7 separate regions of the Homo sapiens genome follow, and all the other regions are linked to region 4. Evidence: fine-mapped expression QTL. A gene starts in region 4. Each other region holds a variant in brackets. All regions are shown on one strand. Distances are from middle to middle.

Region 1 (4,065 bases), 34 kb before region 4:
GAATGGTGGGGATCCTGTCTTAATTCTTCTCTGTTTTCACTATTTGGGAGGGAGAGTGTCTGCTGAAGTAACCTTCTACCTCCCAGTTAGTTACTAGACTTCATTTAGGATAACTACTTGGATGCTTATCTATCTTAGTTTAATCTTGTTTTTTGACTGGCAGAGGGGCAGTCCTAGGTAAGTGGGATAAGCCCTCTTTGGGGGAGGTCAGGAGATTGATTCTGGTGAAGTCTGTTAACCTTTGTGGACCTAAGTTCTTCCTGTTTACAGTGAGAACGTTGACCTACAGCAGTTTGTTTAAGCAACATGACCCTTTTTCAAATGAAATCTTATATACAAAAAAAAAAACCAACATAAAAATTAGGGCTGCTCTGGTTCAAGTGAGGCTGGCATATAGAGGCCCAGCCCCTTGGTATCGCCTCTTTACCGTGTAGGATCTCCTGAGACCTAGTGCTCCTGGTAACACCATTTCGAATCACTTTGAATTGTATCTTGTTTAAAGTCTCATCAAACTGTGAATTAGTCCAGTTAAGGTCTTATTTTATCCATTTCTAAAGCTGGTGGGAGGGGGCAGGATAAGATCTCTGCTTCACGTGATTTTTTTTTTTTTTTTTTTTTTTTTTTTTTGAGATGGAGTCTTACTCTGTCGCCCAGGCTGGAGTGCAGTGGCGCGATCTCGGCTCGCTGCAAGCTCTGCCTCCTGGGTTCATGCCATTCTCCTGCCTCAGCCTCCCGAGTAGCTGGGACTACAGGCACCCACCACTACACCCGGCTAATTTTTTGTATTTTTAGTAGAGAAGGGGTTTCACCGTGTTAGCCAGGATGGTCGTGATCTCCTGGCCTCGTGATCTGCCCGCCTCAGCCTCCCAAAGTGCTGGGATTACAGGCGTGAGCCACCACGCCCAGCCCCTATTTTATCCATTTCTAAAGCTGGTGGGGAGGGGGCAGGATAAGATCTCTGCTTCACGTGATTTTTTTTTTTTTTTTTTTTTGAGATGGAGTCTTACTCTGTTGCCCAGGCTGGAGTGTGGTGGTGTGATCTCGGCTCACTGCAACCTCTGCCTCCTGGGTTCAAGCGATTCTCCTGCCTCAACCTCCTGAGTAGCTGGAATTACAGGCGCCTGCCACTAAGCCCAGCTAATTTTTGTATTTTTAGTAGAGTTGGGGTTTCACCATAATGGCCAGGCTGGCCTCAAACTCCTGACTTCAGGTGATCCACCCACCTCGGCCTCTCAAAGTCCTGGGATTACAGTCGTGAGCCACCGCACCTGGCCACTTCACGTGATCTAAGGGAAGGATAAAGTCAGAGTTGTATGGAAATCCATGATGGTCTTTTCAGGCTCCCATCCATTATATAGTTTGCGGCTTTTCAGTTTCTGCCTCAGTCCTCTTCCAACCCTTTTACCCACAGGAAGTTGGCCGACCTCCATGGAGTTCTCTCTGGTCCCCCCTCCCCCGTAACTGCAGAGGTATTAGCACCTGATTTGAGTGGGAGCAGCCTTGTGATTTAGCACATTAATGGAGCAGTGGTTGTGCCTTTTCCTTCTCACATTGTTTTCTTATCCAGGAATAAGTGCCCAGGTCCTACGTCTCACATTCAGCTGGTTGAAAGTCTGGGTACCACAAATCAGGTGTTTTCAGAGAAACTGGGTTGCCCACCTGTAAAGGGAGAAATTGTTTTCTCATGGAATCTTGAGGAAAGGATTTCTAAATGAGGATCCCCATGGGCAGGAAGTGGAACATTCATTTCAGCCTTCTCTCATCAACAAGGAACACTAGTCATATGCTCAAGCAATATGCTAGGCATGGGCAGAATGCATAGACCTATTCTTTAGGAGCTTAGTGTCTCTGTTTTAAGTGTCCTTGAATTCCTAGTATTTCAGATAGGGGAAGGTAGAGGTGGAATAATTGATGATGATGATAATGATGGTGATAGTTAATAATGTTTTCTTTTGTCTTCTGTCCACTGAATGCTCAGTATCAAGCCAGCTAGTTTAAAAAGAATTCTAGCACTTTGGGAGGCTGAGACAGGCAGATCAGGAGGTCAGGAGATCGAGACCATCCTGGCTAACACGGTGAAACCCGTTCTCTACTAAAAATACAAAAAAATTAGCCAGGCGTGGTGGTGGGCGCCTGTAGTCCCAGCTACTCGGGAGGCTGAGGCAGGAAAATGGTGTGAACCCGGGAGGCGGAGCTTGCAGTGAGCCGAGATCGCGTCACTGCACTCCAGCCTGGGTGACAGAGCAAAACTCTGTCT[C/CA]AAAAAAAAAAAAAAAAAAAATTCTAGCGGCTGGGAGCAGTGGCTCACACCTGTAATCCTAGTACTTTGGGAGGCTGAGGCGGGAGGATCGCTGAGCCCAGGAGTTCGAGACCAGCCTGGCCAACATAGTGAGACCTGTCTCTACAAAAAATAAGCAAAGTCAGCTGGTCATGGTGGCATGCACCTGTAGTCCCAGCTACTTGGGAGGGTAAGGCTGAAGGGTTGCTTGAATCTGGGAGGCAATTTTAGTGAGCCAAGCATGGGTGACAGAGCGAGACCCTGTCTCAAAAAAAATGAATTCTAATAACTTTTGAATGAAGATCTTTCTCCTTCATTCTCATGTTTGTACTATGTAGCTGAAGTAACAAGGTTGGAGAGTTTCATGTGGATTACCTAAGGCCTTGCATAGAGAAGTATTAATTGAGGCAGGATTAAAATCCAAAGATTCTTGACTCCTACTTTGTGTTTCTTTCTAAGAACTTAACCATTTTTTTGTAACAGGATGCATTAGGGAGTGCTCTGAAACAGGGTTTCAGGAGTGTGGATATTGGAATCCATTCTCCCAATTTTATTTATTTTTATTTTTTATTTTATTTTGTATATATATTTTGAGACGGAGTTTGGCTTTTACGCCCAGGCTGTCGTGAAGTGGCGCGATCTTGGCTCACTGCAACCTCTGCCCCCCGGGTTCAAGTGATTCTCTTGCCTCAGCCTCCCGAGTAGCTGGGATTACTGGTGCCCACCACCACGCCCGGATAATTTTTGTATTTTTAGTAGAGACAGAGTTTCACCATGTTGGCCAGGCTGGTCTCGAACTCCTGACCTCAGGTGATCCACTTACCTTGGTGTCCCAGAGTGCTAGGGTTACAGGCGTGAGCCACCATACCTGGCCCCACTCTGCCAATTTTATTTGGTCTTGAAAACAGGAGTGCTGAATGGATGGGCAGAAGAACCCGTTCTACCTGAGATGGTATAGGTCTGGTAGTCCTGTCAATGAGTCAGCCAGCCTTCTGGGCTGTGACCACTCCCTAGGCTTTTAGAGCTTTATGATTATTGCCATAGTCTAAGGACGAGCCCCAACATCTCCTGTTCTGAGCTCTGGCCTCATCTTCCATCAAAGGCAACAGATTCAGACAGGCCACTTGGGGTGGTCACCTAGGAATCTGGCAAAGTACCATAGCAACGGAAAGCCTCTCCTTAAATCAAGCAGAATTTGGGATATGGCAAGAACGGGCTCTGCTCACACATGCCTCTCCTTGGTGGGGTGTTCCCTTATAGTGCTGATTGGAAGCAATGGTTCTGTGAATCTAGGAGCAAATATTGTCCATGAAGTTGTTATTTGCATCATTTCTAGATTCTGGCACTGTGGGGGCAGACTTTATTTTGGCAACAGATACTGGAATTCCATTCCAGGATTACACACTTTATCTGGACCAAGTTGATATCCAGAAGGTTGTAGGGTAAAGTTCATCATCCAGGGATAGGTTGGCAGGATCCCCAAGAAACTGAGTTGCTTTGCCTAAAAATGAAACTGGCTGGGCATGGTGGCTCATGTCTGTAATCCCAGCACTTTGGGAGGCTGAGGCGGGCAAATCGCTTTGAGCTCAAGAGTTGAGTCCAGCCTGGGCAACATGGTGAAACCCTGTCTCTACAAAAAATTAGCCGGGCGTGGTGGTGTGCATCTGTAGTCCCAGCTACCCAGGAGGCTGGGGTGGGAGGATCACTGGAGCTCAGGAGTTTGAGGCTGCAGTGAGCTGTGATCTTGCCACTACACTCCAGCCTGGGCAAGAGAGCGAGACCCTGTCTCA
Region 2 (4,065 bases), 74 kb after region 4:
GACAAGAGCTAGATCCTGTCTCAAAAAAAAAAAAAAAAAATTCCCTAGAACGACATGGAAATGGAGTTTTGCCTGTCATTGTTTTTAGATGGAGAGCATAAATTTGTGACACTCGTTTTGTTGTTGTTGTTTTTGAGACAGAGTCTTACTCTGTCATCCAGGCTGGAGTGCAGTGGCACAATCTCGGCACACTGAAACTTTTGTCTCTTGAGTTCAAGTGATTCTCCTGCCTCAGCCTCCTGAATAGCTGGGATTACAGGTGTGTGCCAACATGCCCGGCTAATTTTTTTGTATTTTAAGTAGAGATGGGGTTTCACCATGTTGACCAGGCTGGTTTCGAACTCCTGAACTCAAGTGATCCTCCCATCTCAGCCTCCTAAAGTGCTGTGATTACAGGCATGAGCCGTGGTGCCCGGCCATGACATTGGTTTTGATTTTATAATGAATAAATAGGAAGAAAGGAGGAGAGCTGCCTTTGAGACTGGCTCTGAAGACAAAATTATTTTTGCAAAAACCCAAAGATTGGTGAACTTCAGAGTTCACATAGGCTATGGTTTTATATATATTAGCTCATTAAAACTAAACCATGAAGAGTAATAGAAATGGAAGCTTACAGGGGTTATAACTTTTCCAAGGTCTCCTAGCTAGTTTTTGGAGGAGCCAAGACTTGGACCCCCAGTCTTTTGACCCCTAATCTGGAGTTTTATTTTGTTTTTCCCTCTAAAAGTGAATAATTCCTGTAGTTTTCAGGTCTGCTGCAAATGAAAGAGGGGAGCCTGGGGAGGCTGGTTTACAAACTTCAAAAACTCCACCAACCACACCCAAGCTCTAGTCCCTGTAGTAGTAACAATATTACTGGCTTTCTGTGCGTCAAGACATTTTTCTAAGCACTTTACATGAAATGCCTCATTTAATCTTCACAACCACCCTGTGTATTTTTATTCCTCCATTTTACAAAAAAGGAAGCTGCAGTTTCGAGTGGTTGATACTTTGCCCAAAGTCATATAGCTAATAAGGATAGATCTTATACTTAAACCCAGGCAGATAACAAAGCCTATACACTTAACCTCTTAAGAATCATAATTCCAAATTGTATTTCTTTAGTCAGTTTACAGTAGAAGAAATCATTCCAGGGACTGTGCTATTGGTAGGTGATTTTTTTGTGTGTGTGTGTGTGTGGGGTACTGAGTCTAGCTCTGTCACCCATGCTGGAGTGCAGCGGCATGATCTCGGCTCACTGCAACCTCCGCCTCCCGGGTTCAAGTGATTCTCCTGCCTCAGCCTCCTGAGTAGCTGGGATTACAGGTGTGCACCACCAAGCCTGGCTAATTTTTTATTTTTAGTAGAGACGGGGTTTCACCATGTTGGTCAGGCCGGTCTCAAACCCCTGACCTTGTGATCCGCTCACCTCGGCCTCCCAAAGTGCTGGGATTACAGGCTTGAGCCACCACGCCCGGCCGGTAAGTGATTTTTTTGTTTTTTGGACCTCCTATCTGGTTAGCACTGTCTAGTTGTTTGGTCCTTCTGGGTATTTGATTTAATTTAACTTCTTTTGGTTGGGAGTTCTTACAGACGAGACTGAGTTTTTATCATTATCATTGCTTGGATGAAGGATCTTTACTATGGACTATGGACTCTGGGTAATAGCAGGAATATCTTTCTAGTGTGGGTGGGATCCAGTAATGTAGGACTTAATGGCTTATTGAGAGTAAAACTAGGTATTCTCAGAAAATCTAGTCTTAAGGGGGAATAACAAGTTTCACTTTATGTTTCCTCAACCCCCTGACTTCAGGAATTCTTTGATTTTTTTTTTTTTTTTTTGGTGAGAGGAAATGTAGTCTATTTAAAAATCTAAGTAAGTGGAGGCCGGCTGCCGTGGCTCACGCCTGTAATCCCAGCACTATGGGAGGCTGAGGCAGGCGGATCATGAGGTCAGGAGATCGAGACCATCCTGGCTGACA[C/T]GGTGAAACCCCGTCTCCACTAAAAATACAAAAAATTAGCCCGGTGTGGTGTCATGCACCTGTAATCCCAGCTATTCGGGAGGCTGAGGCAGGAGAATCGCCTGAACCCAGGAGGTGGAGGTTGCAGTGAGCTGAGATTGCACCACAGCACTCCAGCCTGGGCCACTAAGCGAGACTCCATCTCAAAAAAATAAATAAATAAAAAATGTAAGTGGCAAAGCTGGAAAGGCATTGGGCTGGACTTGTAATTACGACTCCTGACTGTCTGCCAAAGTCAGCTGAAGGTTTGTAGTGTGATCTTTTTGATGCATATGGCATGAGAAGAATCTTTTTTCCTTAAGTCTCCAAGCGATGAGACCATTTACTGTAGCCTGCCTAACAGCTTCATTCTTTCCCCACTCATACATTCCTTTTCCTCCCATTTTTTTTCTGTTTTCTCACTTCTATGTAGATATTATGGGTAACTCTTGAGCCTAAAAAAACAAAGTAGAACCCTTTTCTTTCCCTGTTTTCCTGTGATAGTTGAGAAGAAAGCTCTCAAAGGTTGTAGAGGAGAGGCTCTGGACCATCCATCTGGTACTGACTGCACTTCTATTTGGACTTGACACCATGGCATAGAAAGAGAACACAGGCTTTGGAATGGCATAGACCTGGGTTTAAATTCAAAATTTGCTATTAACTGTGAGACCTTGGGTAGTTTCTTCACCCATGAGTCTTATTTGCAATAAAACTTCCTTAGGGTTGTTGTAAGGATTGCCAAGATAGTAAATGTAAAACATTCAGTAATCATTAGTTTCACATTCCCTTTCTCCAAGGTAATAAATTGTTAAGGCCTCAAATACAGAATCAAGAACTTATTATGACAGATGTGTAATGATGTGATGACTTCCAGGCACTAGAGAAGTGTCCTTTGTCCCAGAAACACTGGTATAGGTGGGACGTTCTAGTAAATAGATTAGGAGTAGGGAAACCAGCCCATTCACTCCTTAGAACCTAGTTATGTTTTTGATCCAGTTGATTTCATCTACTAGTTCACAAAATAGTTTGAGGCTGAGACATTACGGTGAAGTAATGTAATTGGAAGTGTTAAACCAACTTTTGAAACAACTTAATACCTGACATTTGTATATAACATACATTGTCTCACCTAATCCTCACAACAACTCTGAGTTAGACCGGGCTAATTTCCTAACTCCTGGGAAGCAGCAATTTTTTTTCTTTTTCCCCAATTTGGTTCCTGGAAACGGGGCAAATGGATTTGGCATCTTACAAGTGAGAATATGACAGGGTTTACTGCCATTGTTGGGTAGTAGTAGAGCCAGAACTGGGACCAGTCTTCTTGAGTTGTGTTCTATCCCATATGGCCTCTGCTTCTGTCCTTTTTCAGGCAGAATATCTCCCCATGCTTTTAGACCTAGGAATCTGATCTTTTTGTGTAATTGTGCTGTCTTCTTTTCCAAATTAGAGCCAGGTGGTCAGCTTTAAAGCTGTGAAGATGGTGGAAGCTAATGTTTCTCCAGATACTGCTTTCTGACCTAGAGCCCTGAGTATTTTTCCTATCTCCCTTCCTAACCTTCTTCACTGAATTTAAGTTGCAGGGCCATTTATGGCCATCTATACACTTTCTCTTTGCAGCAGGGAATGTCACTGTATCCCCCGTGGTAGCAGTAATTTGGGCTTTTATTAGCAAAGAAGATTATAGGGTGGATGCTGCTGGAGTGGTAATTGCACTTCAGACCCTGTTGAAATTCAGTAACTGGAAGAATCTCTTTTTGAGCTCAGAGTCCTCTTGGTGTGGAAGGTTCATAGGTCATTGTACATAGTGGATAAGGGCAAGTACTTAAGAAATGGAGATGAAAGGGGAGCACCTTTTTTTTTAAAATAAGGGTGCTTATTCAAGAAAGACCTTTGAGTGGCCTGTTGGAATGTAGGGTGGGAATATGAGAAAGTGGCAATGGGTTTTGGACTGAAAGGAAGAAGAGTTGATAGGCGATTATGGGAACTTCGAGCTGGGGTAGGAGGAATTTAGGGAAGGGCAACCACGTTCTTTAAACTTAGGGACTGGATTGATTCAGGAGTTTATTGGACACTTACTTATCAGTTC
Region 3 (4,065 bases), 58 kb after region 4:
TGTTAGATACAACCTTGCCTAGAAACTTGCGGGTTTATTCCAGCCTAGGAATTTTCCTTCTCTTTTCCTCCCTTTTCTTCATACTTAAGAACCCATGAAACTAGTGTTCTAAATAGTACTTAAGCCAATTTCTTTGAATAATTTTTTTTTTTTACATTTTTATTTTAAAAATGAGACAGAGGCTGGGCGCGGTGGCTCACACCTGTAATCCCAGCACTTTGGGAGGCTGAGGCAGGCGCATCACTTGAGGTCAGGAGTTTGAGACCAGCCTGGCCAACATGGTGAAAACCTGTCTCTACTAAAGATACAAAAAAAAAAAAATTAGCTGGGCATGGTGGTGCATGCCTGTAATCTGAGCTACTCGGGAGGCTGAGGCAGGAGAATCGCTTGAACCCGGGACCCGGGAGGTGGAGGTTGCAGTGAGCCGATATCATGTCATTGCACCCCAGCCTGGGCGACAGGGCGAGACTCCGTCTCAAAAAAAAAAAAACAGAGAGACAGAGTCTTGGTATGTTGCCCTGTCTCCAACTCCTGGGCTCAAGTGATTCTCCTACTTCAGCCCCTGGAGTAGCTGGGACTACAGGCACACACCACCTTGCCTGGCTATTTAAGCTAATTTCTTTTGGCACTCTGTAGCCTCCCACATTCAGTTCCTCACATTTATTTTACCTATAATTTCTTCTACCAATTCTCCTGTATTTTCTCCTTTTCTTTTGCTTTCCTGTTCTCTGTGGTGTCTTCCTTTGTCTCTCTTTGCCTCCTCTTGCCTCCCCTATCTTTTTTTTCTTTTAGGTTGGGTTTCCTTTTTTTCCCTTTAGGTTTTCCCTTAGGTCTTCATGGGCGTTGCTTTGCCTCACTAACAGTTAACATAAAGACGTATTTCTGTTTCTTGTACCCATGTGCTAAAGGTACAACTGTTAGGATACCACTTCATTTCAGTTAGATCTAGTTTAGGCATACAATTGTAATCCAAGAAGACTGATCTCTTCTAGTGATTCAGATTGGTTTTATCTTTGATTTTTAGATTTCATCTGCATTTCTTGATTAATTACTCATTTTGGTTTAGTTGACAGTTGAGCAAAAAAAAAATTACTTTCTCCGGAGTAAATCATCTGTTTTATTTATGCTTTCTATGTTGTTCTATGTTGTAGTGCAGTAGCACATTAGGAGGTATCTTTGTGGAGTGAAAAGATTTTTGTGGCTGGGCGCGGTGGTGGTTCATGCCTGTAATCCCAGCACTTTGGGAGGCCGAAGGCAGGTGGTTCACCTGAGGTCAGGAGTTTGAGACCAGCCTGGCCAAAATGGTGAAACCCTGTCTCTACTAAAAATACAAAAATTAGCCGGGCGTGGTGGCGGGCGCCTGTAATCCCAGCTACTCGGGAAGCTGAGGCAGGAGAATTGCTTGAATCTGTGAGGTGGAGGTTGCGGCGAGTGGAGATCGCACCACTGCACTCCAGCCTGGGCAACAGAGTGAGACTCCGTCTCAAAAATAAAAAATAAAAAAAAAAAAGAAAGATTTTTGTTACACGGTTGGGCTCGGTGGCTCACACCTGTAATCCTAGCACTTTGGGAGGCCGAGGCAGGCGGATCACGAGGTCAAGAGATTGAGACCATCCTGGCCAACGTGGTGAAACCCTGTGTCTACTAAAATTTCAAAAATTAGCTGGGCGTGGTGGCACATGCCTGTAGTCCCAGCTCCTCAGGAGGCTGAGGCAGAAGAATCCCTTGAACCCAGGAGGCAGAGGTTGCAATGAGCCGAAATCGCGCCACTGCACTCTAGCCTGGCGAGAGAGTGAGACTCCATCTCAAAAAAAATAAAAAAA[T/G]AAAAAAAAAGAAAAGAAAAGATTTTTGTTTTAGGAAGCTCATATTTTAAGAAACTAAAATATATTCTCATGGTTGAGGACATAAGACATTGTTATAGAAACTAGGTCAACTTCTCAATACCTTTATCAAAGCACCTGCAGTTCCCATTTCATTGCAAGTGAAGTAAATCTCATTGAAATAAAGTAGCTGGTGTATATTCAGTACACTTTTAAAATAGCCTATTTTAAAAGAGAAATTGGTGCCAATCTGATTTATTTCCTGCTTTGTTGGAATGGGGGAAGTTCTGTAACCTCATTGCTGTTCTGCTCTCTATTGACTACTTTGTTAACTGGGGCACAGTTGGCCTCTTGGATGTCTACCGTGCTGAAGGTCAGCCAAATAGGCAGGTAAGACTACCTAGGCCTCTTCATAGGCCTAACTAAGATCACAGTTGGAAAAAAAAAAGTATAGAAAAAGAAAAGAAAGTTGTTTTTTTTTTCTAAAATTTAACTTTTTGTATTCATTGAAGAAGGAAGTAAAACATCTCCATTCAAAAGAAATTTGAGAGTCTGTTTATGCCATACACTGAAGTACAACAATAAACAAAATAGACCTACTGTTTGTTCTCAAAGAGCTTACATTCTAGTTGTGAGAGACAAATAATAAGCGAGTAAATATGTAGTATGTCAGAGTGTGGTAATATTATTGAGAAAAAAGTAAAGTAGAATGAGTAGTATGGAGGAAAGAACGTCTCAGGGTGGGGGTGAGGTTATTTTATATAGAGTGGTCAGGGAGGGTCTCATGTGTAAGGTATGTTTGAGAGAGACCAAGAGAAATGGAGGATGGAGTCATGTAGATATGAGGAGTAGGAAGTGCAAAGGCCCTGAGGCTGGTTATTGCCAATGAACAAAAGAGATTGAGGGGAGGGAAGGAGAAGTAAGAGACCTGTCCAGAGAGGACCAATGGGAATGTATTTTGGGGGAAGGGGAATAATGTAGGGTCTTGTTGTATACTATATTGTACAAAGAAAAATTATCTCCACTTCAAACCCCAGAGACAACGGCTGTTACCGAATTTTTGTGTCTTTCTTGTAACTTGAGGTAGCACCTGACCCAACCTCCATATTTCTCCCATTGTGGAATCTCCATGAAAGTATAGTTAGCAGATAATTTGCATAGTAGCAGATTTTGCATAGGTTGATTACCTTTGTCTTAGAGAATGATAATAAGGCAGCTACTTAGAATAAGCTGATATGTTTTTGGGAAGTGGGATCAAAATTTTTCTTTTTCTTTTTTTTTTTTCTTTTTTGATACAAGGTCTGTCTCGGCAGTGTTAACAATCTCAGCTCAGTGCAGCCTCCGCCTCCCACGCTCAAGCCATCCTCCCACCTCAGCCTCCTGAGTAGCTGGGACTATAGGCATGCACTACTACACCCAGCTAATTTTTGTATTTTTTTTTTTTTTTTGTAGAGACAGGGTTTTTCCCTGTTGCCCAGGCTGGTCTCAAACTTCTGAGCTCAAGTGATCTGCCTGCCTCGCCCTCCCAAAGTGCTGGGATTACAGGTGTGAGCTACTGTGCCCAGCCCCCAAATTTTTCTTTCCAAGAGAAATACTGTATATTTCTCCATCTTCTTATCTAACTAGTCAGTTTTCTATAAGCAGGAGTGACAGCCTAGACCTGTACAGTTTCCTTTTGAGGACAAAATTTATTGGTTTGGTTTATGTGCTTTTGACCAAATAGGCTTGCCCCACTTGTCTGCTGCTTCTCCTTTTGCTCATTTGACCAAAAAGCTCCTGTTTCCCCATGCCCTGATTGTTGAGAATTCATGGCTTTGAGGACCCCTTTATAGGTCACCATATCCGTATTTCTGTCTTGCACATTGGGAGAGATGATTATCCCTGAAACTAACTTTCCTTATGTTTGTTTAGGCATTAGAGGTTATTAAAGCACATCCTGAGCCACTTTACCTAGTTGACTTTGGAGTTGAGGAAGAAGCACCAACTATTTAGTGATTTGATGTTCCATGCATATACGAAAGTAAAAGGATATTTGATTGAATACCTATGTCTTGAATCACACACTGTTACTTTCCCTCTTAAGATTTCTGGTTTAGCTGGTCTGTCCCTCAGTGAGAGTCTCTGTCTCGTTCTCTCTCTCTCTCTCTGTCTCGCTCTGTCTCCTCTCTCTCTCTCCCTCTCCCTCTTTCTCTCTCTTTCTCTCACCCGTCTCCTCCTCTCTCTTTGGAGTTTTTAGCCCTGGCTC
Region 4 (4,065 bases):
AAGCCTCTGCCTAACTCTCCCAGCTTCATCTCTCTCCCTAACACTCTTTCCTTTTGTTCACTTCACTGGAGTCCAACTGATTTTCTGTCCCTCAGATATTCTAAGCTTTTTCTCACATCAGGGTTTCTGACCTCATTTCTTGTATCTACAATTGTCTCTCCCTCCTGTCCATACATGGCTGGCCCTTTGTCTATGCTTACATTTTAGTTCAAATGTTAGCTATGTGAAGAGAGCATCTCTGGCCACTCTAGCTAAAGTAGTTCTGCCCCTCAATTTTTTTTTTTTAAGAGACAGGGTCTCATCTGTTGCCCAGGCTGGAGTGCAGTGGCACAATCTTGGTTCACTGCAGCCTCGACCTCCTGTGTTCAAGCGATTCTCCTCCCTTAGCCTCCTGAGTAGCTGGGGCTACAGGCATGCATTACCACGCCCGGTTAATCTTGTATATTTTGTAGAGACTGGGTCTCGCCATGTTGCCCATGCTGGTCTCAAACTCCTGGGCTCAAGGGATTCTGCCTCGGCCTCCCAAAGCGCTGGGATTACAGGCGTGAGCAACGCGCCTGGCCACCTTCAATTTTTATCATGTTTTCTTTTCCTAGCATTAACCACTTTCTGACATTATCTTGTTTACAATGCCTCCTCCACTGAAATGTACATCCCAAAAAAGGCAAGCATCTTGTCAGTCTTGTTCACAACTGTCTCCAGCATTTAGAAAAGTGCTTGGTACATAGGTACTCAACAAAATAATTTTTTGAATGAAGAGTTTGGTTCGATTCTTATCCCTTTTTTGATCAGACCAGGAAATGCCGGAACCTTAGAAGGAAGAATGGCAACTTGCCCCAAACCAATAGCAAGTCTGTGGGAGACCTGTAACTAAAACTTTGGGTCCCCAAAGATATTAAATCAGGCCTCTCGAGTTCCAAACTCAAACCCTGGATTTTGTTTGTTTTGAGACGGAGTCTCGTTCGCCCAGGCTGGAGTGCAGTGGAGCAATGTCGGCTCTCTGCAACCTCCGCCTCCCGGGGTTCAAACGATTCTCCCGCCTCAGCCTCCCGAGTAGCTGGAATTAAAGGTATACGCCACCACGCCCAGGTAATTTTTGTGTTTTTTGTGGAGACAGGGTTTCATCATGTTGGCCAGGCCGGTCTCGAACTCCTGACCTTAGGTGATTCGCCCGCCTCCGCCTCCCAGAGTGTTGGGATTACAGGCGTGAGCCACCGCGCCCAGCCCTAGGTCATTTTTTAGAGAGACATAAACCAGTGTCAGGGACACAGCCTGGACATGGTGCAAAAGACAGTAACGGAGATGCACTACGCCCCTGCCCGCCATTCATCCCTTTGGTTGAATTCAACTCATCCTGGTTGAATTCAAGTCATCCCTCTGCTTGTGAATCCTAACAGCGCTTCCGACTTAGGGCTCCACAGTCCGGGTATGCGTTGCCTAGGTTACCTCGCACCTCCGCTAGCCGGCTGAGAGCCACGCCCATCACCTCCTCTCTAAGATTTGATTGGCTGGCTTTGGCAAGGCCGAGTACTCACCTGGCAGTTCCCTCATGAGGTAAAAAGGGCCACAGCCAGCTCCTGACTTGTCCGCGCCAGGAGGAGCCGTGGCCGCGGTGGGAGGCGGGGCCGTGCCGGGTCCCCCGCCCGCAGGAGGCGGTGGCGGGGGTGGAGGCTTTCCTGGTCCGAAGCCGAGTGCGGTTGGGGGCGGTGGTGGGTCAGCCTGAGCCCCAAACAGTGCCGTGAAATTCTCCATCGTACCCTCCGCCCCGGCGCTGTCTCCGTGTCTGCCGTTGGTAATTTTCATTGGACAATGCTTTCAAGGAGTACCCCCCCGCCCTTTCTCAAGGAGCCGCTTGTCATTGGATGCCTCAGGCACCGCCTACCTTTTTTCAACAACTACTTCCGTCGCCTTATGAGAACGTTCAGGAAGTGCTATTTAACCTTATTAGAGTCTTCTGCTAGCTCTGCTTGCTACAGTCCAATAAAATGACTTAGGCGGATAAAGCGACAACTAGACTAACCAATAAAATATTAAGTTCTTTTTTGGGTTCTGACCTACCACAGCGTTCAGAGAACTACATCCGGGTTTAGAGGCCGTACGTTTGCGATATAGCCCAATAGCAGTCGTTATGGTGGGGGAGGCGGGGCGAGACCTACGACGCCGGCGAGCAGTGGCCGTTACGGCCGAAAAGATGGCGGTCTTGGCACCTCTAATTGCTCTCGTGTATTCGGTGCCGCGACTTTCACGATGGCTCGCCCAACCTTACTACCTTCTGTCGGCCCTGCTCTCTGCTGCCTTCCTACTCGTGAGGAAACTGCCGCCGCTCTGCCACGGTCTGCCCACCCAACGCGAAGACGGTAACCCGTGTGACTTTGACTGGGTGAGCCTCCCGCGTGTTAGTACCCCGCGACCTTGACTGTCCCTGCCCTTGCAGGTGTATCTGGGAACCCTGGGGTTTACCTCTCTGAGGACACCTGAGGTTCCGAGCCTGTAGCGGACTTAGAGACTATTAAGTGCAGGGTCCGAACCATCATCGAGTCTAAACTTTGTGTTTAAGATGGGAAAACGGAACATGTTAGTCGTAGCCCATGCACAACGGCCCAACAGCTTTTGACTGTTGAGTCCAGGTTTCTTTCTGTTTCACCATTGAGACTAATTAACAGCCCTATCAAAACTGTACATACACGTGTATAACGTTTTACAGTGCCGCTCATTATGTAAAGCCTCCTGAGGAGCCAGTAAGGTAGACAAGGCAAGTAGTAATATTCCTGTTTCATTGGTGAAGAAATGGATCTCGGTATATTTAGGTGACTTGCCCCAGGTCATACAACTAATGAGTGCCTGGGACTTGAAACTACTCTTCTGGCCACACTACCTGCACAACACTGTCAGCCGCTTCTTAATTCAATAAACATTTCTAGAGTGTACACTCTAGGCACTCTGCTTGATCCTGAAGATGCGAAAGTGGATAAAATTTGGGGGCTACTGTAAAGGAATTGTAAAAAATACGTTGTAAAGAAATCTTTGGGATTTCTTTGGGAAGTGTCCCAAGCTCCTTGCTGTGCTTCCTTGGTATGGGTGGAGGGACTGCTCGGAACATAAACTTAAAGCACTTTCCCTTCTGCCATATAGCATGTAGGGGCCAAGGAAAAGCTTCCCCTTTGCTCTCTGAGGGTTTGTTGAAAAATCAACCGACAAAGGGCACATTAATAGGAGAAAGGCATAGAAATTTTATTTTAACGTGCATAGCATGAGGGAATTGCAGGAGAATGACCCAGTGGGGTACAGATGCTTATATACCCTCTTTCATAGGAATATGGGAGATGGGAAAATGTGGGTGATTTTAAGGTGGATCGTAAATGATTTTTAGGGTGATTCAGTGGCCTGGAGAACATACAGTGGCCTGGGACAATGACTGTTGGGCCTGCAGAGCAGACAATGGTTTCTGACAAAAATCTGTCCAGGTGTGTTGACAGGCTTCCATCTTTCTTCTTGTACTGAAGTAAGTTAATGAAAACTCAGGGAAGAGACCAGAAGTAATTGTTGTCTTCTTTGACAGGTCTGGACTTTAGGCAGATAAGGTAGTTATCAGAGTAAAGCTGCTTCCAGTATCTGCTGGTTTCCAGGGACCTTTAATTTAAAATGATTAGCATACAGGATGCCATATTTTGGGGTGTGAGTCCCTGGTCTTCTTTATTTCCTTTGTCTGAAACTTCCTTAGAAGTTTCACTATAAGCTGAGTTGGTGTCTGTGGAGAGAGAAATCGGGCTAGTAATTGAGCGGCAAAGGATCCCATTAAACCAGCCTCTCATTTTGGGGGATAGTCCAGTTCAATTAAATTGTTGTGTCTCATTTCAGAAGATGGCATTGTAGATGAGTTCTCAAAGCTAGGCCTCTGTATATGATGTAGGCAAACAGGTATTTAATAAGAGAGACATTTCTATGGAACAAGACAAACAAAGCTTAATATCTGGTATAGTCTATAAACTAGTTTCTTTAGAGTCTGGAGGGCAGTCAATTGGGAAGATTAATAGCAATCTATTTTCCTAGATTGTAGGTTGTGTG
Region 5 (4,065 bases), 120 kb after region 4:
AACACGGCAGATTACGGAATTAAAATTCTTGCCTCTCTTTTATGTCACTCCCCAGGAATAACTACTCTTAACCATTTGTTACATATCCTTTCAGATATCTTTCTCCAAGTGCTTATTCAACAAAGACTTCTTTTTTATTTTTTATTTTGAGACAGAGTCTCGCTCTGTCGCCCAGGCTGATTTCCGCTCACTACAACTTCTGCCTCCCAGGTTCAAGTGATTTTCCTGCCTCAGCCTCCCAAGTAGCTGGGATTACAGGTGTGGGCCACCATGCCCGGCTAATGTTTGTTTTTAGTAGAGATGGGGTTTCTCCATGTTGGCCAGACTGGTCTCGAACTCCTGACCTCAAGTGATCCACCTGCCTCAGCCTCCCAAAATGTTGGGATTACAGGTGTGAGCCACCATGCCCAGCCACAAACATTTATTTCTAATGGAATGTATGATGTACATATTCTGCAATTTTGTTTTTTTCCCATAAAGCATGTCATGGACATCTTTCTACCATAGTGCATATTAGTCTTCCTTGTTTTCCTCGTGATTGCCTATTTTACCATTATAAGTCTGTGCCATTTTAGACCTGGTATCTTCCTGCTTCTGGGCAATCTTTTTGTGGCCAACATGGAAGTCTATAGCCCACTTAGGAGACATTTTTCCCAGTATGGAACCTCAGTCCAGAGCCCATGATCCTGTGGTTAGGATGAGCAGACAGTATGGCCGCTTTGCCCCCTCTCTGGACAATTCAGCCTTATCAGCCTCCAACTCACTTCCCCAGAGGATTTGGAAATATGCTTCCTACTGCTCTGTGCCCCTGGGCAGAGATGCTAAGTATCCTGTCCACCCCTTCCTTCGGAACATAACACAGAGGATTTTTGGCTTTTTAAACCTGCATCTTATCTGAAGGTAGGGATTGCTCTGCCTGCCATCCCAAAGCCTACAGTCCTGACACTGTGAAATGAGTGCAGAGGAAGGAGGTGGAATGCAGTTGGCTTTGAGTCCTAGCCAGCCGTTTGAAGGCTACAGCCTGCTTCTAACTTGTTTCTGATGGAATTCCCAGGAATGACCCTGGCTCAACCTGATTCTCATCATGTCTTCTCTGTACTTTGGAGAAATCAGGTCCCAAACTCTCCTTTCTGGGCCTCTCTAATGTCTGACTGTGGACATTCAGTATCTCAGCTCTGACTTCGCCTTTACTTCCTGTAGAGTGTCTTGAATTCTGGTAACTCATATTCTTGTGATGGTACCTCATTGCCAGTTGCTTTGTAACCTGCATTCCATAGTGTTGCTTACATGAAACTGACTTAAAAAGTGAAACCCTGACCCCATCAGTACTGTCACTCATCACTTAATCACAAGGATATGTTCTAAGAAATGCATCGTTAGGCAATTTCATTGTTGTGGGAACATCATAGAGTGTCCTTATGCAAATCTAGATGGTACCATTTACTACACTCCTGGGCTATGTGGTATAGCCCACTACTCCTAGGCTACAAACCTGTACAGCATGTGTGTACCATTATTATAGTAATAATGAATACTGTAGGCAATTGTAATATGGTAAGTATTTGCACGTCTAAACATAGAATGTTTACCTGCATAGGGTACTTACGTGAATGAAGCTTGAGAACTGAAAATTGCTCTGGGTGAGTCAGTGAGTGAGTGGTGAGTGGATGTGAAGGCGTAGGACATTACTGTACGCTTGGGCTACACTAAATTTATAAACCATTTTTCTTCAGTAATAAATTAGCCTTAGCTTACTATAGCTTTTCTTCACAAACTTTAAAAATTTAAAAAAAAACTTTTGACTCTTTTGTAATAACAGCTTAAGACAAACACATTGTACAGCTGTACAAAAATATTTTCTTCTTCCATATCCTTATTCTATAGCTATTTTCTATTTAAATTTTGTTATTTTACTT[TA/T]AAAATTTTTTTTTTTTGGTTAAAAACTAAGACATAATTCCAGCACTTTGGGAGGCCAAGGTGGCAGGATAGCTTGAGATCAGGAGTTCAAGACAAGGTTGGGAAACATAGCAAACCCTGTCTCTACAAAAAAAATGAAAAAATTAGCTGGGAGCAATGATGCACTCCTGTAGTCCTAGCTTCTTGGGAGGCTGAGGCAGGAGGGTCCCCTGAGCCCAGGAGTTCCAGGTTACAGTGAGCCACTGCACTCCAGCCTGGATGACAGAATAAGACCCTGTCTCTCAAAATGAATCAATCACACAAAGAAGCCAAAAACTAAGACACACACACACACGTGTTAGCTTAGGCTTACATGGGGTCAGGATCATCACTGTCTTTCACCTCCATATTGTGTCTTACTAGGTCTTCAGGGGCAATAACGTGCATGGAGCTATCATCTATGGCAATAATGCTTTCTTCTGGAAGATCTGCTGAAGAGACCTGCCTGGGGCTATTTTACAGTTAACCTTTTTTTATTTTTGAAACAGTGTCTTGCTGTCTCGCCCAGGCTGGAGTGCAATGGCACGATTTTGGCTCACCGCAGCCTTGAACTCCTCAGGCTCAGGCGATCCTCTCATCTCAGCCTCCTAAGTAGCTGGACTACAGGTGCATGCCACCATGCCAGGCTAAGTTTTGTATTTTTTTTGGAGAGACGGGGTCTCACCATGTTGCCCAGGCTCAGGCTGGTCTTGAACTCCTGGGCTCAAGCAATCCTCCTGCCTTGGCCTCCCAAAATGCTGGCATTTCAAGCGTGAGCCACCCTGCCTGGCATAGTTAACTTTTTTTAATAAGTAGGAGGAATATACTCAAAATAATAAAATATAGTAAATACATAAACCAATAACATAATCATTCATTATTATCAAGTATTATGTACTGTACATAATTGTATGTGCTATACTTTTATATGGCTGACAGTGCCGTAGGTTTGTTTACACCAGTATCACCACAAATACATGAGTAATGCATTGTGTTATGATACTACAACCGTTATGATGCCACTAGTGATGGGAAACTACTTCATACAGATGCTAGGGCCTAAGGCTATTCCTGTCTTTGAGGAGCTCTGATCCCAGGGATGAAGGCAGTAAATTCATTAATGAGGTAAGCATTACTATAATGATTTCTTTTTAACATTTAGAAGATGGTTGACTTCTGCCAGGAAGGAGGGCAAGGCTTCACTGAGGTGACATTTTGGTTCGTTTGAAAGGATAATTAGGATTCCATCAGTTGGAGAAGGTGTGAAGTCATTCAAGTCAGATAGAATAATGTGCAAAAGTACAGAGGTATAAAAAGAATGCTGTTCATTAGGTGTCCACATAGGCAAGAGGAAGTTTCTCTTTATAGAAACATTTCATCTCATAATTGAAGGTGTGATTGAAATATAATATTATCATTTTGCAATCCCTAATAAAGGGATCTTAGGCATTGAGCATCAACAGCTGCTAACATCACAAAAAGAGATCTGTATCACCTATGAAGTAGTTTAAAAAAATATCAAGCCTGAGTCTGATCAAACTTGTAGATCCAAATACTATTTTATAGGAAACACAGAAGATGGGGGCAATGTTTAACTATACCATAAGGATGTAACTAGCAACATGGGAGGAATTACAAATGACCCAATTTCTTTAATAAATTAATTGCAAGAAGAAAAAAAGTGGAGACAGACCTATAGATTAAAAAATATCAGTCTCAATGCATGCGTCTTATTTGGATTCTAACATAAAGAGGACATTTTATGAGACAATTGGAAATTCGAATACTGGATATTTGATGTTACTCAGGGATTATTATTTTTAGATATGACAGTGGTATCATGGGTTATGATTAATTCATTGTAAATTCGAGCAATGTACTGAAATTTTAATGGATAAAATGTTATGATGAGGAAATTTGCTTCTAAGTAGTATGGGAGAAGAGTAGATGAGGCTATAAGTGACACAATTGGCTATGGGTAATTCAAGCTGGGGTATGGGTACACCAAGTTTCATTATAGTATTTTGTTTGATTTTTCTGTATATTATTTAAAATTTAAAATTAGAATTCCCTGTAATAAGTTTTTTAAAAATGGTATATTTGGGATCTAGTAGCTCCATGTGGCTGAGG
Region 6 (4,065 bases), 55 kb before region 4:
TTGTTTTTTGTTTTTGTTTTTTTGAGACAGAGTCTCGCGCTGTCGCCCAGGCTGGAGTGCAGTGGCAGGATCTCAGCTCACTGCAAGCTCCGCCTCCCGGGGTCAGGCCATTCTCCTGCCTCAGCCTCCCTAGTAGCTGGGACTACAGGCGCCTGCCACCACGCCCAGCTAATTTTTTTGTATTTTTAGTCGAGACGGGGTTTCACTATGTTAGCCAGGATGGTCTCGATCTCCTGACCTCGTGATCCACCCACCTCGGCCTCCCAAAGTGCTGGGATTACAGGCGTGAGCCACCACGCCCTGCCTTAAATGTGATTTTTTTTGTGAGACAGAGTCTCACTCTGTTGCCTAGGCTGGTGTGCAGTGGCGTGATCTCAGTTCACTGCAACCTCCGCCTCCCCGGTTCAAGCGATTCTCCTGCCTCAGCCTCCCAAGTAGCCGGGATTACAGGCGCCCGCCACCACGCCTAGCTAATTTTTGTATTTTTAGTATAGATGGGGTTTCACCATGTTGGTCAGGCTGGTCTCGAACTCCTGACCTCAGGTGATCCGCCCGTCTCGGCCTCCCAAAGTGCTGAGACTGCAGGCGTGAGCCACCGCGCCTGGCCTAAATGTTTACTATTATTATAACCGGACTCAGAAACTCTGGGTTTGAGTCCTAGCTCTACCAATGGCTGTTAATGTTTGGGCAAACCTCTGCACCTATCTGAGTCTCCTCCCCCATCTGAAATTGGATATAATAAAGCTGTCTTTACAGGGTGGCTGTGAAAGAAGATGCCTGAAAGGGATCTGAAAAATGTTAAGTATTGCACGAATGAATGATATTATAGCCCCTTCCGCCCCAGCCTATAATAAAAACGTAAAAGCTGATATCAGATTTTTTTCTATATTACAGGCATTGTACTTAGTACTTTACAGGCACATTCCTGCAATCGTCAAAACAACTTTAGGAGGTTGGGCACTGTTATTATCCCAACTTTGCAGACAAAAAACGATATCACGCTTGAGCCCAGGAGGTCGAGGCTGCAGTGAGCCATGTTCGCGGCACTGTACTCCAACCTGGGCGAGAGAGTGAGACCCTGTCTCAAAAACAAAAAGAAAAAAAAAAACGATCTCAGAGAGATGAAGCCTGTGATTTGCTCAAAGTCACACAGTAATGTAAGCAGTATAGCAAATAATATAAGATTCCAAAGCCCAAGGTAGTAAAAAGAGGATTATAGACGTGGTGGAACCTGTTGGCTGCGGGGCAAATGACTGACCTGTAACTGTCAGGGATTTATGGAGGGAAATGAGTGCCTAACAAAAATCCTCGTTTAGTGGGAGAGAGGTTGTTGGGTAATGACTGACTTGTAGCTGGAAGAAATCATCGGATTTTTATTCTTTTATTAAAGAAAAAAAATTTGAAATGCCTTCCATGTGCCAAGCACTGTGTCAGGTGGGAGATGACAGCTTGGTGAAACCTCTGTCAGGCTGTCTTCCTCCGCTTTCTCTATCCCTGGGTTTCCCCCTGCCTAAAAAGGATTTTGTGCTTCGTGGCTTGTCCAGGCAAGCAGGCCGTCGCGGGACCTAGACCGAGACAGTGAGTCTCTCTTTCTCCCGGGCCTCCCTTCTGTTTCCTGGGCTGCAGGGGAGCAGGAAATCTGGGGCGAGATTCCCGCCGCGGACGCGCACTGCCGAAGCCTGGTCCCTCGACCTGTCCCTGCCCAGCGCGGGGGCGCAACCGCCACGCCTCCTCACCCCTCCCTCCGGCTGCACGAATAATGACAACAGCCGCCCCTCCCACCTTTGGCGTCACGTTCAAAACAATCCTTTGACTACAACTCCCAGAAGGCCGAGCGGCTTAGCGAGTGCACCCGCTCTCGGCTGCTCCGGCAAACTACACATCCCAAA[G/T]GGCAGCGCGCGACCGCGTGTCCTTTCACAGCGCAAGTGCGGAACTGCGTTTGTTTCCGGCGTGGGTCCGGGCAAGAACCGCTTGTAGTTTGGTTTAAATTCTGCACGGGAGGACCTTCTGAGTTTACCTGTTGGGCTCCTGGCTGCGCAGGTGAGTTAAAAAAAGGGCAGGAACACAACTGTCACCTCCTTGGGGTCTGGGGACATTTTGGTGTCTGGGGAGATTTTGGTGTCTTGGGGAGATTTTGGTGTCTGGGAAGGTTGGGACAAATGCTGGAGCTAGAGCTGCAGTCCAGGATCAGAAATAATTCATATCGTTTCCTTGCCGTTTTCTAGTTTACGAAGTGCTTTTTTTTCCTCCCACAATTCCTGTAAACCCCAAGAACAACACTGTATTTGAGGAAGTGTAAGTGCTTCCAGTCGACAGCTTCAAAGGTTCAGAGAAGTTAAGTGATTGTCTAAAGACACTACTAGTAGTTACAGAGACGAGGATTAGGCTGTTTTCTGAGTTCAGACCCGGTGTGCTCTGCTTTGCATCCGTATTTCAGACGCCCTTTCCTGTTGACTAGGATGATTGGGGTCAGGGCATCTGTTACCTTCTCAAGTTTGGAGTTTACCAATAGAGTGATGGAGGGTGATATAATTAAATCTTCTGTCAGTCTGTAGGTATGGTTTTTCTCTGATGTCTGAGACATTAATTCACTCAATGTATTGAGGTGCCTACAGTCTGTCAAGCTGTATTCTAAGCAGTATATAGTATCAAACAAAAATGCCTAAGTCTTACATTTTGGGGTGGAGGAGGCGGGGAAGACACAATATATAGTGAGACCGATGGTGATAAGAAATATGGAGAGAATTAAAGCAAGGTAAGGGGAAACATTCATTGTATGTTTTTATTATTTATTTATTTATTTGTTTATTTTATTTTATTTTTTTTTGAGACAGAGCCTTGGTCTGTCACCCAGGCGGGAGTACAGTGGCATGATCTCGCCTCACTGCAACCCTGCAACCTCCACCTCCTGGGTTCAAGCGATTCTCCTGACTCAGTCTCCTGAGTAGCTGGGACTACAGGCGCCCACCATTATGCCTGGCTAATTTTTGTATTTTTTAGTAAATACTGAGATTTCACCATGTTGGCCAAGCTGGTCTTGAACTCCTGACCTCAGGTGATCCACCCACCTTGGCCTCCCAAAGTGCTGGGATTACAGGCGTGAGCCACCAGGCCTGGCCAATATTTGCATTTTTTCTACAGACGGGGTTTCACCATGTTGCCCAGGCTGGTCTTGTACTTCTGAGCTCAGGGGATCTGCCCAACTCAGCGCCCCAAAGTGCTGAAATTACAGGCCTAAGCCACTGTGCCTGGCCCATTGGATGATTTTTTTTTTTTTTTTTGAGATGGAGTCTTGCTCTGTTGCCCAGGCTAGCATGCAGTGGCACAATCTCGGGTCACTGCAGCCTCTGCCACCTGGGTTCAAGCGATTCTCCTGCCTTGGCCTCCCAAAGAGCTGGGATTACAGGCACCCTCCACCATGCCCGGCTAATTTTTTTTTTGTATGTTTAGTAGAGACAGGGTTTCACCATGTTGGCCAGGCTAGTCTTGAACTCCTGACCTCAAGTGATCCAGCCACCTCGGCTTCCCAAAGTGCTGGGATTACAGGCGTGAGCCACCATGCCTGGCCCCATTGGATGTTTTTGTAACAGAAGACTGACTTATAATTAGATCTGATATTTAATTTGTGTTCTAGGCACAGCAGCTACACAGAAGAGATGGGAGAAGAGGCTAATGATGACAAGAAGCCAACCACTAAATTTGAACTAGAGCGAGAAACAGAACTTCGCTTTGAGGTGGAGGCATCTCAGTCAGTTCAGTTGGAGTTGTTGACTGGCATGGCAGAGATCTTTGGCACAGAGCTGACCCGAAACAAGAAATTCACCTTTGATGCTGGTGCCAAGGTGGCTGTTTTCACTTGGCATGGCTGTTCTGTGCAACTGAGCGGCCGCACTGAGGTGGCTTATGTCTCCAAGGACACTCCTATGTTGCTTTACCTCAACACTCACACAGCCTTGGAACAGATGCGGAGGCAAGCGGAAAAGGAAGAAGAGCGAGGTCCCCGAGTGATGGTAGTGGGCCCCACTGATGTGGGCAAGTCTACAGTGTGTCGCCTTCTGCTCAACT
Region 7 (4,065 bases), 160 kb after region 4:
GAGCAGGTGTGTTACACAGCAAGAAAGGGAGCAAGAGAGAATGGGGAGGAGGTGCCAGGCTCCTTTAAACAACCAGCTCTTGTGTGAACTAACAGAGCAGGAACTCACTCATTACCGTGGGGATGGCACCAAGACGTTCATGAGGGATCAGCCCCTATGACCCAAACACCTCCCACCAGCCTCCACCTCCAACACTGGGGACCACATTTCAACATGAGATTTGGTGGGGACAAACATCCAAACTATATCAAATACCAAGTTAAGTATAAGGCTCCTTCTACAAGAAGCCAAAAAAGGGATTTTGTAGGCATTCTAAAGTTAGTTGCTTTTTCTTTCCTTTTTTTCACGTTTCAGTTATTTATTCATCAGTGTAATGTCCAACGCAGTACACCAGCATGATTTCATGTTTGTGGAGGAGAAATATTTCCTGGTTAAGTGGAAAAGTGTGTGGATGGCGTCTAGAAGATCCTAATTCTAAGCAGCTTTACAGTGAAGCATTTCATTTAGAAATCTGGGCCTTCTTTCTTCAGTTTGCTGTAATCTACATTCACTGAGTAGGACTTGTATTGATCATTGGGACTCAGTTTGTTCCAGGGTTCTGGGTTATTGTTTCTGGCCCAACTAACATCTGGACTGAAAGATGCCAGACACAAGACATACCATGCTGCTCCAGTACTCCCAGCTCCAATAAATATGAAGCAGGATATCAAACTCGGATTCTTCTTGGTCTGACTAAGGGTCTGGTGGGGCATGTCTGCAGCAGAAACCTCTGATTCGAAAGGAGAGAACAAGCCTAGCTAATAGGCTCTGGACTAAGCAGTATCTCTATTTACTTTTTCAATACTTAGTTATCAAATTATATCTTCGTGTGGTATTCTGGAAATTTGCATATGCTGGTGAGATGCCTTCTCATAAGATTCAGCATAGGTTAGAAGCATATATTTCTTGGCTGGGTGTGGTGGCTCATGCCTATAATCCCAGCACTTTGAGAGGCCAAGGAGGGTGGATAACTTGAGGTCAGGAGTTGGAGACCAGCCTGGCCAACATAGTGAAACCCTGTTTCTACTAAAAATACAAAAATTAGCTGGGCGTGGTGGTGTGTGCCTATAATCCCAGCTACTCAAGAGTCTGAGGCAGGAGAATCGCTTGAACCTGGGAGGTGAAGGTTGCAGTGAGCTGAGAGCAAGCCACTGCTCTCCAGCCTGGGGGACAAAGCAAGACTCCATCTCAAAAAAAAAAAAAAAAAAAGCAAAAAAAAAAAAGCATGCATTTCTTTTCAAAAGTGGGAGAAGGGCAATTGTGAAGGGGGAGATGAGAGACAGTCCAGCATTCTCATCACAGAGGTGTTCTCAAGCATGTCAGTTTTAGGAAAGCATAGATATGGACATTGAGGTTCTGGAAACCGGTGCCCTTAGAAGGTCTTGCCTGTGAACCCTTTGAAGAGTCTTCACTTACCCTCAGGGCTACCAACCCTCATTTGAAGACTGTGGCCTTAGAAGAACTAGCCGGCTACTGAAACCTCCAAGACCCTGCCTCCGCCCTTGCTGCCTCTCCTCCCTCCCTCCCAGAGATGGGCCTGTGATTATGTGACTGTAGGAGAATTCAAGAAACATTCCATGCCCTTCGCAGAATGACCGTCTATTTACTGGAAAGGTCAGAATATGTGATCTCAAAAGTCAGGGTCCTGGTGGTGTGGCAGAATCCTATCCGTGATTCACCCTTGACGTTCAACCTAGCACAGTCAGCCTCCTGGCCTGTGCCCCAGTTTCTCCACCCAGATGCCCCATGTATCATTTA[C/T]GCTTATTCTTTTCTACCTTTCTTAGGGGTTTCCTTCTGTTCAAATCTAAATGTCCACGAGTCTCTGATCTACAATGAGTATTATTGCTTTCATTTTTCTCTGATAGGATGACAGACCAGTCCCTTAGGCACGCACATTCACAAAGTCATACTCAGCATTATTATTATTTAAAACAATTTTTTTTTTGAGACAGTCTCGCTCTGTCACCCAGACTGGAGTGCAGCAGCATGATCTCGGCTCACTGCAACCTCTGCCTCCCGGCTTCAAGCAATTCTCCTGCCTCAGCCTCCTGAGTAGCTGGAATTACAGGCACGTGCCACTATGCCTGGCTAATTTTTGTATTTTTAGTAGAGACAGGGTTTCACCATGTTGGTCAGTCTGGTCTTGAACTCCTGACCTCAGGTGGTCTGCCCACCTTGGCCTCCCAAAGTGTTGGGATAACAGGCATGAGCCACCATGCCCAGCCATATATTTAGGCTGAATTCCTGGAATCCAGCAAATAATGTTTCTTGTTTACCTTCCCAATCCCTCTCTTCCACCATCTTCCCACGGCCCAGTACTGCATTCCCTCCTAATCCTCCACTGCTCCCATCTCAACTTCCATATGGCCATTTGATTCCTTCAGAGACACACCTATTAATAATTCTCAATTGTTGTGACCTCGGCAACAGCCTTCCAGGTGTACTTTGAGGTTCCCAAGTGCAGAGTATTTCCAGGTTTCCTCTATCATCCCTCCAGGTCTCCTCAAGCATCCCTCCAGGTCTCCTCTAGCATCCCTCCAGGTCTCCTCTAGCATCCCTCCAGGTCTCCTCTAGCATCCCTCCAGGTCTCCTCTATCATCCCTCCAGGTCTCCTCTATCATCCCTTCCGGCTTCCTCTATAATCCCGCAATGCCATCCCTCAGTCCTTCTAGTAAGACTTCCCTTTCCCCAGTGAGTCCTTGTTTTGTGTGCTGTTGTCATCTGGCAGTTGATTTTTACTCACACACATATTTAGAATTGTGTAACAGGGTCTGTCAATGTTTCTAAGTCTTTCTTCCCTCCTGCATGGTGTTGCTTTGCTTCCCTATCACATAACTTCTGAGAGCAGAGGCTGTTTTAAGCTATATAAGAAGCTGTCAGTGACTATTTGAACAACTACTATAATCTGAAAATATTTGAACAATTGCAGTCGTTCAAAAGGGTTTAAACAATTATGGTTGTTCAAAGTATTTAAACCATCATAGTTGTTCAAAGTATTTAAACAATAGCATAAGACACGGCTGTGGCCACTTAAGATCTTAAAATTTTGTTAAGAGACACACTTGCTTCCATGAAAACGAGTGAAGTTGGGTGGAGCCCACTGCCAGCAGGAACCCATTGAGGGAAGGGTGATTGCAGCTTGGGGTGCTCTGGGGAGACTTCAGGACCAGGAGGCACGGGGCTGAGCCTTGAGGAATGAGAAAGGTGTTGCTAGTTGGAGGAGATGGGGAAGTGCGATCACCTGGAACTGGGAATTAACCTCAGTAAACATTTACCGGGCAAAAGGTGCATTGGAAGGGGTCAGGAAACTTGGCAGAGTTACTTAACCTCTCTGAGCCTCAGTTTCTGTGAGGATTGAAAGACAATGCGTGTCAATGTTGTACTCAGCACACTTCTGGAAACAAGGTAGGTACCTGATGTACATTAACTTCCACCAAGTTAGATTATGCGTACCTGATGAATGGGGAGCTGGAAAACATTGCTCAAGACCGTTGAATACCATGGGATCTCAGGAAATGCTTAAAGGCTGACAGAGTAAGGGATGGTGTGGGTGTGGATTTTGAAGGGAAGGGGAAGAGAACAGGCAACCTCAGCCTTCTGAATCAGCTCTGGTGGAACGCAGTAAAATCTGCAATAGAAAAATACCAACCTTAGCAGATGGTGCTCCCCAGCCCGATATACCTCAAGATGGCTGGGGGGACTCAAGATCCTCCCAGGCCAGCCACGTAGGGGTAGTTCTGGGACTCCCTTCCACTCCAGCCTGTATCTTCAATTTCTCCTCTCTAAAGCTGTTCCTGGGGTAGCCACACATTCAGACTTGATAAGACACACAGCTCAGGCAAACAGGATGTGGCATTCAGGACTGAAGCTACGGTTGCATCTTGGTCCTGCCCAGAGCTTATAAAGCTGGCTTCATCTCCTCTTGATCTCTGGTGGCTCTGGAGGCTTAGAGCTCTGGAAGGTCCTTGAAACACACCACCTCCCTACCTGGGAGGTTCAGGCCTCAGGGAAGAAGAGATTATCTCT

What was found. PIP is the estimated chance that this variant, and not a neighbour inherited with it, causes the effect.
Region 1: its variant is fine-mapped to the expression of MED19 in whole blood (INTERVAL, PIP above 0.99).
Region 2: its variant is fine-mapped to the expression of MED19 in whole blood (TOPMed, PIP above 0.99).
Region 3: its variant is fine-mapped to the expression of MED19 in lung (TOPMed, PIP 0.93).
Region 5: its variant is fine-mapped to the expression of MED19 in lung (GTEx, PIP above 0.99). The same link has a PIP of 0.9 or more in esophagus muscle.
Region 6: its variant is fine-mapped to the expression of MED19 in whole blood (TOPMed, PIP above 0.99).
Region 7: its variant is fine-mapped to the expression of MED19 in thyroid (GTEx, PIP 0.98). The same link has a PIP of 0.9 or more in whole blood.

The regions. Positions count from the first base shown.
Region 1 is chr11:57,676,313-57,680,377 of GRCh38, forward strand. All of the region lies in intron 2 of ZDHHC5 (zDHHC palmitoyltransferase 5), which reads left to right. Among named protein-coding and RNA genes, the nearest start is that of ZDHHC5, 10 kb to the left of the region's middle. The variant C/CA (reference allele first, on the strand shown) is at 2,258.
Region 2 is chr11:57,784,388-57,788,452 of GRCh38, forward strand. All of the region lies in intron 1 of CTNND1 (catenin delta 1), which reads left to right. All of the region lies in intron 2 of TMX2-CTNND1 (TMX2-CTNND1 readthrough (NMD candidate)), which reads left to right. Among named protein-coding and RNA genes, the nearest start is that of CTNND1, 25 kb to the left of the region's middle. RefSeq lists an enhancer at 1-369. The variant C/T (reference allele first, on the strand shown) is at 1,962.
Region 3 is chr11:57,768,845-57,772,909 of GRCh38, forward strand. The region is part of intron 1 of CTNND1 (catenin delta 1); the gene reads left to right. The region is part of intron 2 of TMX2-CTNND1 (TMX2-CTNND1 readthrough (NMD candidate)); the gene reads left to right. Among named protein-coding and RNA genes, the nearest start is that of CTNND1, 9.1 kb to the left of the region's middle. The variant T/G (reference allele first, on the strand shown) is at 1,824.
Region 4 is chr11:57,710,428-57,714,492 of GRCh38, forward strand. MED19 (mediator complex subunit 19) reads right to left here and starts at 1,788. Exons shown (of 5, transcript NM_001317078.4): 1 at 1,536-1,788. The coding sequence starts at 1,752. It overlaps TMX2 (thioredoxin related transmembrane protein 2), which reads left to right and starts at 2,166. Exons shown (of 8, transcript NM_015959.4): 1 at 2,166-2,380. The coding sequence starts at 2,192. TMX2-CTNND1 (TMX2-CTNND1 readthrough (NMD candidate)) reads left to right here and starts at 2,096. Exons shown (of 21, transcript NR_037646.1): 1 at 2,096-2,380. RefSeq lists a silencer at 1,419-1,758.
Region 5 is chr11:57,829,010-57,833,074 of GRCh38, forward strand. No RefSeq gene overlaps it. Among named protein-coding and RNA genes, the nearest start is that of CTNND1, 69 kb to the left of the region's middle. The variant TA/T (reference allele first, on the strand shown) is at 1,917.
Region 6 is chr11:57,655,821-57,659,885 of GRCh38, forward strand. It overlaps CLP1 (cleavage factor polyribonucleotide kinase subunit 1), which reads left to right and starts at 1,942. Exons shown (of 3, transcript NM_006831.3): 1 at 1,942-2,040; 2 at 3,635-4,065. The coding sequence starts at 3,657. RefSeq lists an enhancer at 1,416-1,585. The variant G/T (reference allele first, on the strand shown) is at 1,890.
Region 7 is chr11:57,869,820-57,873,884 of GRCh38, forward strand. It overlaps LOC107984365 (cytochrome c oxidase subunit NDUFA4-like), which reads right to left and starts at 775. Exons shown (of 1, transcript XM_047427966.1): 1 at 504-775. The coding sequence starts at 752. The coding sequence ends at 504. The variant C/T (reference allele first, on the strand shown) is at 1,798.